Linked DNA regions of Homo sapiens. The protein of the gene in region 1 purifies or fractionates together with the protein of each later gene. This does not show direct contact. Each region holds a gene or a part of one and is shown on either strand. Other genes may lie near its edges.

Evidence for each region. The genes of interacting proteins can lie anywhere in the genome.
Region 2: the proteins of PCDH10 (region 1) and TMEM63B purify together in Homo sapiens (affinity purification with mass spectrometry; one large-scale study listed by BioGRID and IntAct). This does not show direct contact.

What each region holds. Positions count from the first base shown.
Region 1 is NC_000004.12:133,186,753-133,192,112, reverse strand, and holds part of PCDH10 (protocadherin-10 isoform 1 precursor), read right to left. Parts: intron 1,973-5,360; coding exon 1,953-1,972; 3' UTR 1-1,952.
Region 2 is NC_000006.12:44,143,713-44,149,072, reverse strand, and holds part of TMEM63B (mechanosensitive cation channel TMEM63B), read right to left. Parts: intron 2,227-5,360; coding exon 2,146-2,226; intron 1,697-2,145; coding exon 1,573-1,696; intron 822-1,572; coding exon 688-821; intron 561-687; coding exon 423-560; intron 282-422; coding exon 128-281; intron 1-127. UniProt on the Homo sapiens protein: Mechanosensitive cation channel with low conductance and high activation threshold. Osmosensitive cation channel preferentially activated by hypotonic stress.

The DNA.
Region 1 (5,360 bases):
ACATACATTATTTTGATATATGAACTGATTGGAATATGATATATTAATATCTAATTTGATAACAGTCAAATGAGTGATACCAATATATCACTCTAAATGTACATATCAGGACCTAAGTGTGTGTGTGTGTGTGTGTGTGTGTGTGTGTATATATATGTATTTTAAAGTTAAATCTAGGGAAAAATTTCCACTTAAGTTACATAAAATTTGATGAAGAACATTTGTCAAATGTTAAGTTTTAGTCTATTCTTTAATAACACAGTGCAGCTCAAACTGTCATTGAATATAAGATCAGTTAAAAATTAAGGAAAGTATTTCAAAACAGGTTTCTAATTTGAACTGGGCAAACATTTTGATATAATGTTGAAGCTTTGATATGATGTTTTGATATCATAGTTTAGAGGGCGAGGGGAGCTGTGACAATTCTGTTTTTTGCTTGAAAGATTATCTTATATTCTCTGATTTTTTTCCTCTCTCGAATGTGTTCTAACAAGGCATACACAACAGTAGAAAAAATATATAAAAGAAAGGAAAGTGCGTCTTACTAAATTTAATAATTAATATTGTTGACATAAAAGTAAAAGGCAAGCTTAACTTTTGAAGGCTGACTCATGAAGAATTTTTTCATTAATCAAACACTGACTACATTTAAGCTATAAAATTTTCACATGGAATACTGAAACAATAATGTACCATGATTCTATCTCTAAATTTATTTTAAATTTAGAGCTTTCATATTTTATAGTTATTCTTTACCAGTTCAGATGTTTCTATATCTCTATATATTCATATAGAATTATAGATTTTATATTCATGTGTAATTAAGTCACAAAACTATGTAAAATAAAATTCTGTGTGAGTGATATGACTGATGACTTCTTAAAATAGTAATCTTCAATTACATATTTTACACCACAAAATGTACAGACACCCAGTTTTTTTCTAACAACAAATACAGGTGAATTTATCGATTCTTTATAAAAGCTTTAAGTGATTCTAAATTCAAAGTCATAGAAATAGAATCAGACTTATGCAGATTGTTAGATAGTTTGATAGTACATAGTCAGTGCTCTGTCTGATAACATCAATAGCTACATCTTTGGCATTGAAAATTCAATATGAGTTTTTGACAAAATTTTGTAGCTTAGAGCATCATTTTCTTTTAAACAAGGAAAAACACGGTTGAGTAAGATATGGAAATTGGGAGAAAACTATTAATGATTTTTTCTTAGTAAGTTTGTCTTTGGGACCCTGAATTACCTTTTATTTTATTGTATGATGTGGACTGTATGCATCCATTTAAAAACCAACTGAGTTGTACCACATTTTAGGAAAATTATATAATATAATATATATATTTTATATTTATTTAGAAGCTTTGAAATAGTACAGTAAACACTTTGCAACACGGTGTATAAACTACAGAATGTCTTTGATATTTTGTGGGTCTTCAGAATACAACATTTTTTATAACCCACAGGTGAAAAGAACATAATCACAATTTCTCTTGTAAAGTTGGAATAGCTTGCGGAACACTTGATCACACAAAAATAATATAAAACAGTCAAGTTTAAAACAGTGATATTGCATTTATAATGCACAAATTTCCTTTATCTTTATGACTGGCTTCTCGTGGTGAATATAAACATCTAAAGGGCTCAGTGACATTTGGAGAGAGAAAGATAGATAGTGCTGTAAACAGGCACACACTGATCGGGGAGGCAAAATCTGTTGCCTCTAAAGTTTCTACAGTTCTGCACATTTCAACTCATTTCTCAGGCCTGCTGAGAGCAATTAGGTCCTATAATTGGCCATGATGACTCCATCCGAAATCTAATACTCAGTTACACATGACTAACTGGATGGCCAAGATAATGAAGTTGAAAAGTTGATGCTTTTGTTGGTCGACTTTGTGCAAATCATGCTGCTTCAGGTAAGTCCTGTAGAATTGACTAGCATATCCTTTTCCGTGCTGTGAAAAAGAAAGAAAAATACTCTAAGAAAAAGAGGTTGACTTTTGGAGTTTAGAATTACACATTATTGTAAAAGAAAGAATACAGTTAGAAACTAGTTGTACCCTCATACCAAACACATGTAGTGTCAAACTTTTTCACTGCTAGTAGTCACAGCCATTCTGTTGTTTGGTTTTCTGAGAATGATAATTTTGATATTCTTATAAATTAGTTTTGCATGGGAAATGTACATTTTATATACCAAAGATGAAATTTGTGAAGATTAACTTTTTAAAGTTATCTACATAAAACAATCCCTACACTTCACTATTTATGCACAGAGTATAGAAAAAAATGTGTGGCCCTTACATTTCTAGAAAAAGTTTCTAGCAAAATCTATAAATAACTTGTTTTATATTTAATTTCATAAACTATAAATTATACATATTAAACCAATATTTATTATGGAAAACTGTACCAGAAAGTGTTTATGTAGTTAAATAATTTAAAGATGACTCACATTTTCTAGGTTTATTTAATCTCATTTATAAAATTTTAAAACCAAGTATTTTTATGGCCCATACATTTTTTTAAAGTATTCTTACTATGAGAATCCATTTTCTCATAAAGGAATTAATAAAGGCAAAGGGGAGAAAGATATTATCAAATTTGCTCTAGTTGTATAAAATATATTAAATTACAAAGCAGAATGCCCAGATTTGATTGCCCAGATTTCATAATTTTAAGTATTTTGTTTATTTGTAATGATAAATAATATTTCTTCCCTTATCCATAAACTTTGTAATATTTGACCATAAGCACAATGAGAGCAGAAGTTGCATCATATCTATCAGTATATGGCACATAACAGACATATAACAAAAATGTGTTGAAAATAAAGCTAGTTGAATTTAGATTAAATTTTCACATATCTCATTAAAAGTTACAAAGTACATTAAATAGCAAAACAATTATTTTAATCTCATAAATGGTTGCTTTTTTTAAACAAAGATAAGAACATGTTGATCTTCTCAACCTTATTCTCTGGTATTTCAACTCATTTCAAGACTATCTAATTATCTATTTATCCTAATTTATTTTTCCTCAAAAGCTCAGTTTCTGACCATGAAACAGTTCTTTACTAGTTCACCATTTAGCAGGCACATCAATCAAAACCATAGCAGTCGGCCGGATGTGGTGGCTCTCGTCTGTAATCCCAGCAATTTGGAAGTCCGAGTTGGGTGGGTCACCTGAGGTCAGGAGTTTGAAACCAGCCTGGCCAACATGGTGAATACCTGTCTCTACTAAAAGTACAAAATATTAGCCTGGCATGGTGGTGGGCGCCTATAATCCCAGCTACTTGGGAGGCTGAGGCAGAAGAATTGCTTGAACCCAGGAGGCAGAGGTTGCAGTGAGCTGAGATCATGCCATTGCACTCCAGCCTGTGAGACAAGAGCGAAACTCCATCTCAAAAAAAAAAAAAAAAAAAAAAAAACCCATAGCAGTCAGGCACCATCATCAACAGAAATGAAAGTGAAAATAAGTATCTACATGTATTGTGTAGTATAATAACTAGTATTGAAAGTAATCAGAACATATTTTGTAATGTATGATATCCAGAAGAATAAAATGAATTCGATACAATATATGGTAGTCATTATAACCAGGTCATAATATTCCAGAGAATATTCTACAAGTAAACGGAATTATTATTTTAATAGAATGAAATCCTATTTTTCTGTGTCCTTGAGTTCAAACTGTTTCATGAGAAACTTATATGTGAAATAATTCAAACAAATTTGTTTACACCAATCAGAATTGAAAATTATACAATAAATTAGAATAGTGAAACCTTAGAAGTCCAAGTTTATAAAACAAATCAGAGCAAATCATTACGGTCACCAAATAATTTGTTGTCTAAACTGGACCCACTGGTGAGTGAAAAGAAACACTATTATTAATTACAAAAGATTTTGTGCTTTCTGGACAACCCAGGAAAATATTGTCACCGACAAATAATATTACTCCTTTCAAAATAAGCTGGGTTGGGGCCTTTCCTGTTAATAGTAAAAATCAGAAAATGCTGATTTAGAGGAAACATTCTTTTCTTAGTTCAAGAACAAAAGAAACTCAGGAGTGACCTATAGTCAACCTATAACTAATTCATTATGTCAAAAAACTAATATACTGAAAAACTATGTTTTAGTATAAATTCAGAAAGTAGTCAACATAGCATATGTTTAGAGTAATAAAAATATCATTTCTAGTTCTTATGGCTTAAAGGCCATTAACATAAATATTATGTGTTCACTTGATTTAGTTAGGATACAAACAGAAATTGTTTCTTTTTAATAAAAGAAATTATTAAAATGGTTCACAGTTTTAAGAACACAGAAGCTTAGCACACATTATACTCAATATCTTAAATATAAACATAAACTTAAAAGACATCTTTTAATTGCTGCTTAGAGTTACGTGTTTTCTTTTTTAAAGTTCACCTATTGTACTTGTTGTCTGAATAATATAATCACCTATTATTAAATTTACTTCCTCCCACCTATGTGTTAATTCAGTAATGCAGATTTGGATAGGACAAATATAAGATCTGAACTTAGATCTGATCTAAGTTCCGAAGGTCAGAATTAATTAGATTGAGGAAGGAAGATTTCCTCCATGTTAGAAGAAGCTAATCTTACATTTATGAAGAGTTATCCCTCAGTGTCTGTGAGGGCCTGTTTCCAGGTTGCCCCCAAAATCGAAGGATGCTCAAGTCCCTTATGGCCTGTAGTGTATGCATATATCCTATGCATGTCCTCCTAAATATGTTAAATTATCTTCAGGTTACTTACAACATCTAATATAATGCCTAACACCAGGCACATCACTTCATTCACATAAATTCAAGGCAGTACTCTGTGCATGGCAAATTCAAGTTTTGCTTTTTGAAACTTTGTGGGACTTTTTTCCAAATATTTTTAATCCACAGTTGATTGAATCCACAGACAAGGAGCCCAAGGATACAGAGGAGCCAAAAATCCTGCCAACCTAGAAATAGTTTATACTATTACTAAAGTTTTAGTCACATCCGCTTTATTTCAAACCTTCTACGGGTTGAGTTTAAACACTGAATAACTATTATTCTTGGCTGGGCACGGTGGCTCAGGCCTGTAGTTCCAACAATTTGGGAGGTTGAGGCGAGCGGATCACTTGAGCCCAGGAGTTTGAGACCAGCCTGACAAACATGTCAAAAGACCATCTCTACTAGAAATACAAAAGTTAGCAGGGTTTAGTGGCACAGGCCTGTAATCCCAGCTACCTCGGAGGCTGAGGAACAAGAATTGCTTGAATCTATGAAGTGGAGGTTGCAATGAACTGAGATCTTGCCACTGCACTCCAGCCTAGGAGACA
Region 2 (5,360 bases), on another chromosome or scaffold:
AGCTGGTTGGTGGCACGGGGTTGGAACAAGCAGAACGGGCTGGGCTGGGCAAGTGGAAGAGGGATCAGGGCCTGGTATCTGTGTGTTGTGACCCAGCGTGGAAAGTGACAGGGGCATGAGGCCTCACGTTGAGGTACTCCACAGGCTTGGTGACGTTGAACTTGTCCATGGTGGTGATGATGATGGCTGGAGTGGTGAGGAAGAAGAGGAGGATGAAGAGGACGACATTGATGACCAGGCAGCGCAGCCACCAGATGAAGCCTCGGATGGAGAGGTGCTCCCTGGCAAGGTGGGGAACCGGTCAGTCCAGGAACCAAGGGCAGGATTGGCCCCCAGTGACACCAAGACACTCCCTCTCCTCCGCCTACCTACTGAGCCCATCCCAGGCCCTGGAAAGCCTGCCCTGACACCTGTTTGCTCACCAGTAGATGTTCTGAGGGTCAGGGGCATAGGACACGGTCCAGTTGGAGATGTGCAGGGACTCGCTGCAGGATGAGGGGCGTGGCTCCCCACGGCAGGTGCAGCCCTGGCATTTACACACGTTGAAGTCCTTCAGGATGCTAGAAAGATGGGCACTGGTTACCACAGGCCCACCTGGAGGCCACACTGCTGGCAGAAGGCCATGAGCACAGGGGTCAGGGAGCCCTGGAGGGCTGCTCAGGGCCGAGGGCCGAGTTGGGGACTCACATGGCGGTGATAGTCTCATTGTGGAAGGTGACAAAGGCCATGCCAAGAGGCTTCTCATTCACCTTCTCCTTCTCCCGCTTGTAGTCTTCCTTCAGCTTCTGCTCCAGCTTTGTGTAGTACTCAATGGCCTCCACCTTTGTGGGAGGGTTAGGGACAGGGCCTCTAGTTGGAAAGCCAGGCTGGGGCCTGCAGCATCCAGCCCACGCTGACTTGGGGCTTCCTACAAGCCAGGCACTGCTCCTCTAAGCATTTTTTTTTTTTTGGAAACAGCGTCTCGCTCTGATGCCCAGGCTGGAGTGTAGTGGTGGAATCTCAGCTCACTGGAGCCTCAAGCTCCCAGGCTAAAGTGACCCTCCCACCTCAGCCTCCCAAGTGGCTGGGAATACATGTGTGCAGTACCATGCCTGGCTAATTTTTGTATTTTTTGTAGAGATCAGGTTTTGCCATGTTTCCCAGGCTGGTCTCAAACTCCTGGCTCAAGTGATCCACCTGCTTCAGCCTCACAAAGTGCTGGGATTACAGGCATATGCCACCGCACCCAGCACCTCTAAGCTTCTTTATATGTATTACTCACTTTACCCTCACAACACTCTCATAAGGTGGGTACGTTAACCCCATGAGGAAACTGAGGCACTGAGCAGTAAGCAACTTGCTCAAGTCCCCAGAGTCAGTGGGTACAGCACAACATTGTCCTTTTGGCTGACATTTTCTAATTTGAGGTTTGAAAACCTGGTCACTGTAGGGACATTAGACAAACCCAACAGTGGGAACTGAGGCTTCAAGGATTCCAGGGACAGGTGGGGACTCACTGAGGGCAGGGCCCCAGCCTTGCCTGCCCAGGACCTGTCCAACTTCTCCCGACTCAACAGCCAGCCCGCGTCATACCTGCTCACAGCCTCGCACCACACAGCAGCAGAGGTGGCCACAGGGCTTGGGGTTGATCATGGTAGGCACGTTCTCCTTGCTCTGGAGGTTTGTGAAGTACAGCTTTCCCCGCTCGGCCTTCTTCCTGTGGGACCCAGATGCCTGGTCACCTACATCTGGGGCTGGGGCTGGCTCAGCTTGGGGGTCATCTAGCTCACTCCCCAAGGACAGGAGCTGTCTTGTTCTTGTTTAGGATACATGTTTCAGATGTGGCCACATCCCAAGGTCTCCCCACCCATCCCTAGAGGGCCAGAAGTTCTTCCTGCAGGCTGACCTAAATTTCTCATACTGTAGCCAAAGAAGGGCATGTCCTCAGATGCAGTGGGGACCATGGGCCCCCCTTCCCCTCACAACAAACTCTAACCTCCAGGCCTTGCTCTTTCCAGAGCTGAATTAACAGGCACACCAACGAGTTGAATTAAAATCAAATGCCCTAGGAAAAAATCTAGAAGGGGAGCCTGTGTGGTAGCCAAGATGTCCTCCACAATGGCAGGGGGCCCTTGGTGTCACCCTCCTCTGCCCCCAGTCCCTTACCTCTCTGCATCGAGGAACATTAGGCGAGCCACGTTGTAACACGGGCGGGCTTCGAGAACTGTGCAGTTGGGGTAGGCTTCCCTGAAACACAGTTCATGTATCATCTTGTGCAGGGACCCCACCCACCTGCCCCTGACTTTCATCCATGACCCCATCACCTTCAAGAAACACATCTCTGGCTGGACGTGGTGGCTCACATCTGTAATCCCAGCACTTTGGGGGGCCGAAGCGGGAGGATCACCTGAGGTCAGGAGTTCGAAACCAGCCTGGCCAACATGGTGAAACCCTGTCTCTACTAAAAATACAAAAATTAGCTGGGCATGGTGGCACGTGCCTGTAGTCCCAGCTACTCAGGAGGCTGAGGCAGAAGAATTGCTCGAACCCGGGAGGTGGAGGTTGCAGTGAGCCAAGATCGCGCCACTGCACTCCAGACTGGGCGACAGAGCGAGACTCCATCTCAAAAAAAAAGACAAAAAAACCCACATCTCCAATTCAAGCTGCCTTTTTCTTAGTCTACAAAACTGAGAGTTCCCCAAGAATAAAGCTTTGGAGTTCCTCCTCATGCTTATCTGAGTGGGGAAGTGGGAGCAGAAGGCCTGAGCACTGTGTGACTGCAGGCTGGGCTAACAAACCAGGATGTGTAGGGACATACTGCATGCAGGTAGGGAAGCCAGGGCTATGGTCTGATTCCTGTCCAGGGCTGTGACCTTTAGGTTGAAAAAAATTGCATCTAGTCATAGGCTATATAATTCCTTAACCCTGTTCCCAGAAGACCTGGTCACAGCCCAACACTTAGCCTTGACCACAGACTGACCTCAACCAACCCATAACCCAGTCTACAAAATGATCTCTAACTTTGGCCCAAGACAGACAAGAGATTGATCCTGACCCCTGACCAGGGTGAGACTGACCTGTAACCCTGGCCAAAGACTGACCCTTAAGCCCACCCTGGCCAAAGACTGACCCCAGACCTGTTGCCCAGACCCAAGACTGACCTCCTAACCCTGACCCCAGATTCATCCTTACCTTGACTTAAGACTGACCAGAGAGAAACTGGCACTGACTCACTAGTACCTGGTACCAGGCAAGGCTTGAAGAATGCTTGCTGAGTGAAGGAATAGTTCATTTTTTTGTTTGTTTGTTTGTTTCAAATATTCTGAGATGGGGTCTTGTTGTATTGCCCAGGCTGGTCTTGAACTCCTGGGTTCAAGTGATCATCCTGCCTCAGCTTCCCAAAGTGTGGGCATTACACTAGTGAGCCACCATGGCTGGAGGGAATAGTTTCTTTTTGTTTTTTGTTTCGTTTTTGTTTTTGTTTTTGTTTTGTTTTGTTTTTGAGACGGAGTCTCACTCTGTCACCCGGGCTAGAATGCAGTGGTGTGATCTGGGCTCACTACAACCTTTGCTTCCCGGGTTCAAGTGATTCTCGTGCTTCAGCCTTCTGAGTAGCTGGGATTACAGGTGTGTGCCACCACACCCGGCTAATTTTTTTTTTTTTTTTGTATTTTTAGTAGAGATAGGGTTTCAACATGTTGGCCAGGCTGGTCTCGAACTCCTGACCTCAGGTGATTGGCCCGCCCTGGCTTCCCAAAGTGCTGGGATTATAGGCATGAGCTGCCATACCCAGCCTAATAGCTTTTTTTTTTTTTTTTTGAGGCGGAGTCTTGCTCTGTCGCCCAGGCTGGAGTGCAGTGGTGCAATCTCAGCTCACTGTAACCTCCACCTCTTGGGTTCAAGTGATTCCCCTGTCTCAGCCTCTCCAGTAGCTGGGATTATAGGCACATGCCACCACGCCTGGCTAATTTTTATGTTTTTAGTAGAGATGGGGTTTCACCATCTTGGCCAGGCTGGTCCTGAACTCCTGACCTTGTGATTCACCCACCTCGGCTCCCCAAAGTGCTGGGATTACAGGTGTGAGCCACCGCACCTGGCCAGTAGTTCGTTTTTAAATCTGATCATGCACTGTTCTTTGATCCTAATCCTTAATCTAGACTGAGTCCCCATCTTTTTATATTTTATTAAAATTTTTAGGTTGAACACAGTGGCTCATGCCTGTAATCCCAAAACTTTGAGAGGCTGAGACAGGAGGATTGCTTGAGGCCAGGAGTTCATGACCAGCCTGGGCAACATAGTGAGACCCTGTCTCTAAAAAAAGAAAAAAAAATTAGCCAGGTGTGGTGGTGAGTGCCTGTAGTTCCAGCTACTCGGGAGTCTGAGGCAGGAGGATCGATTCAGCCCAGGAGGTCAAGGCTGCAGTGAGCTATGACCACGCCCCTGTATTGCAGCACTCCAGCCAGGGAGACAGAGTGAGACTCTGTCTCAAAAAAAATTGTTTTTTTTTTTAAATGAAGGACCACCAAGTATTGAATGCATGAGTTACTGTTCTAAAGTATTAAGATAGTCCTCATAAACCCATGAGAATTTAGAAACTTAAATCTGGGATAGGGTCCTTGAGATGTACTTCCCAGGAGGCTAGAGACCTTTCCTCTGATATTGTTCCTCAAACCATTTGAGGTTTCCCCTTTGGAAGGGTGAGCTCTCATTCTCACTAAACTCATCTCTAATCCTCTAAATCCAACCACACAGGCCCGTTGATTTGCATGCAAGATATTTCCTAATTGTGCTGAGACAGTCTTCCAATCCAGACAGACTGCAGACTTGGACCACAAGCCCTGCCTAATCCTGACAATGAGCTCAAGCGCTGTCTCTTAGTCCTCACCATATACCCAGCCCTGTCCCAACAGCTTGTATATAGCAGGTGTTCAATACACATGTGGTAAATGAGCGGATCAATGAAATGGCTACTCCATAATGCTCATCCCAGTGATCCAAAAAACTCCAATTAGGACTAGAGTCTCCCTTACCCCTGCTTATAGGCTGACCTCTCCTAAACAAAACTATAGACCAACCCCTGAAACACAACTAGGATCTTCAGCTTCCCAAGGGCACTGATCAGGTCTGATTATACTCTGTCTCCCAGGCATGAAGCACATAGTAGGTATACAATAAATGTGGGCTGAATGAATAGACAGTTGACTAGTAGGGTTCACTCAGGTCTCTGTTCAAATGCCACGCTGTCAGAGTCCCTCCCTGTCTATCCCATCAGAAATAGCAACCCTTCCCAACCCCTCTTACCCTGCCTGCTTCCCTGCTGTGGTTTTCTTAGCACCTACCTCTTCTTGACACAGTCTCTATTACTAGTTCATCCGGTCCCT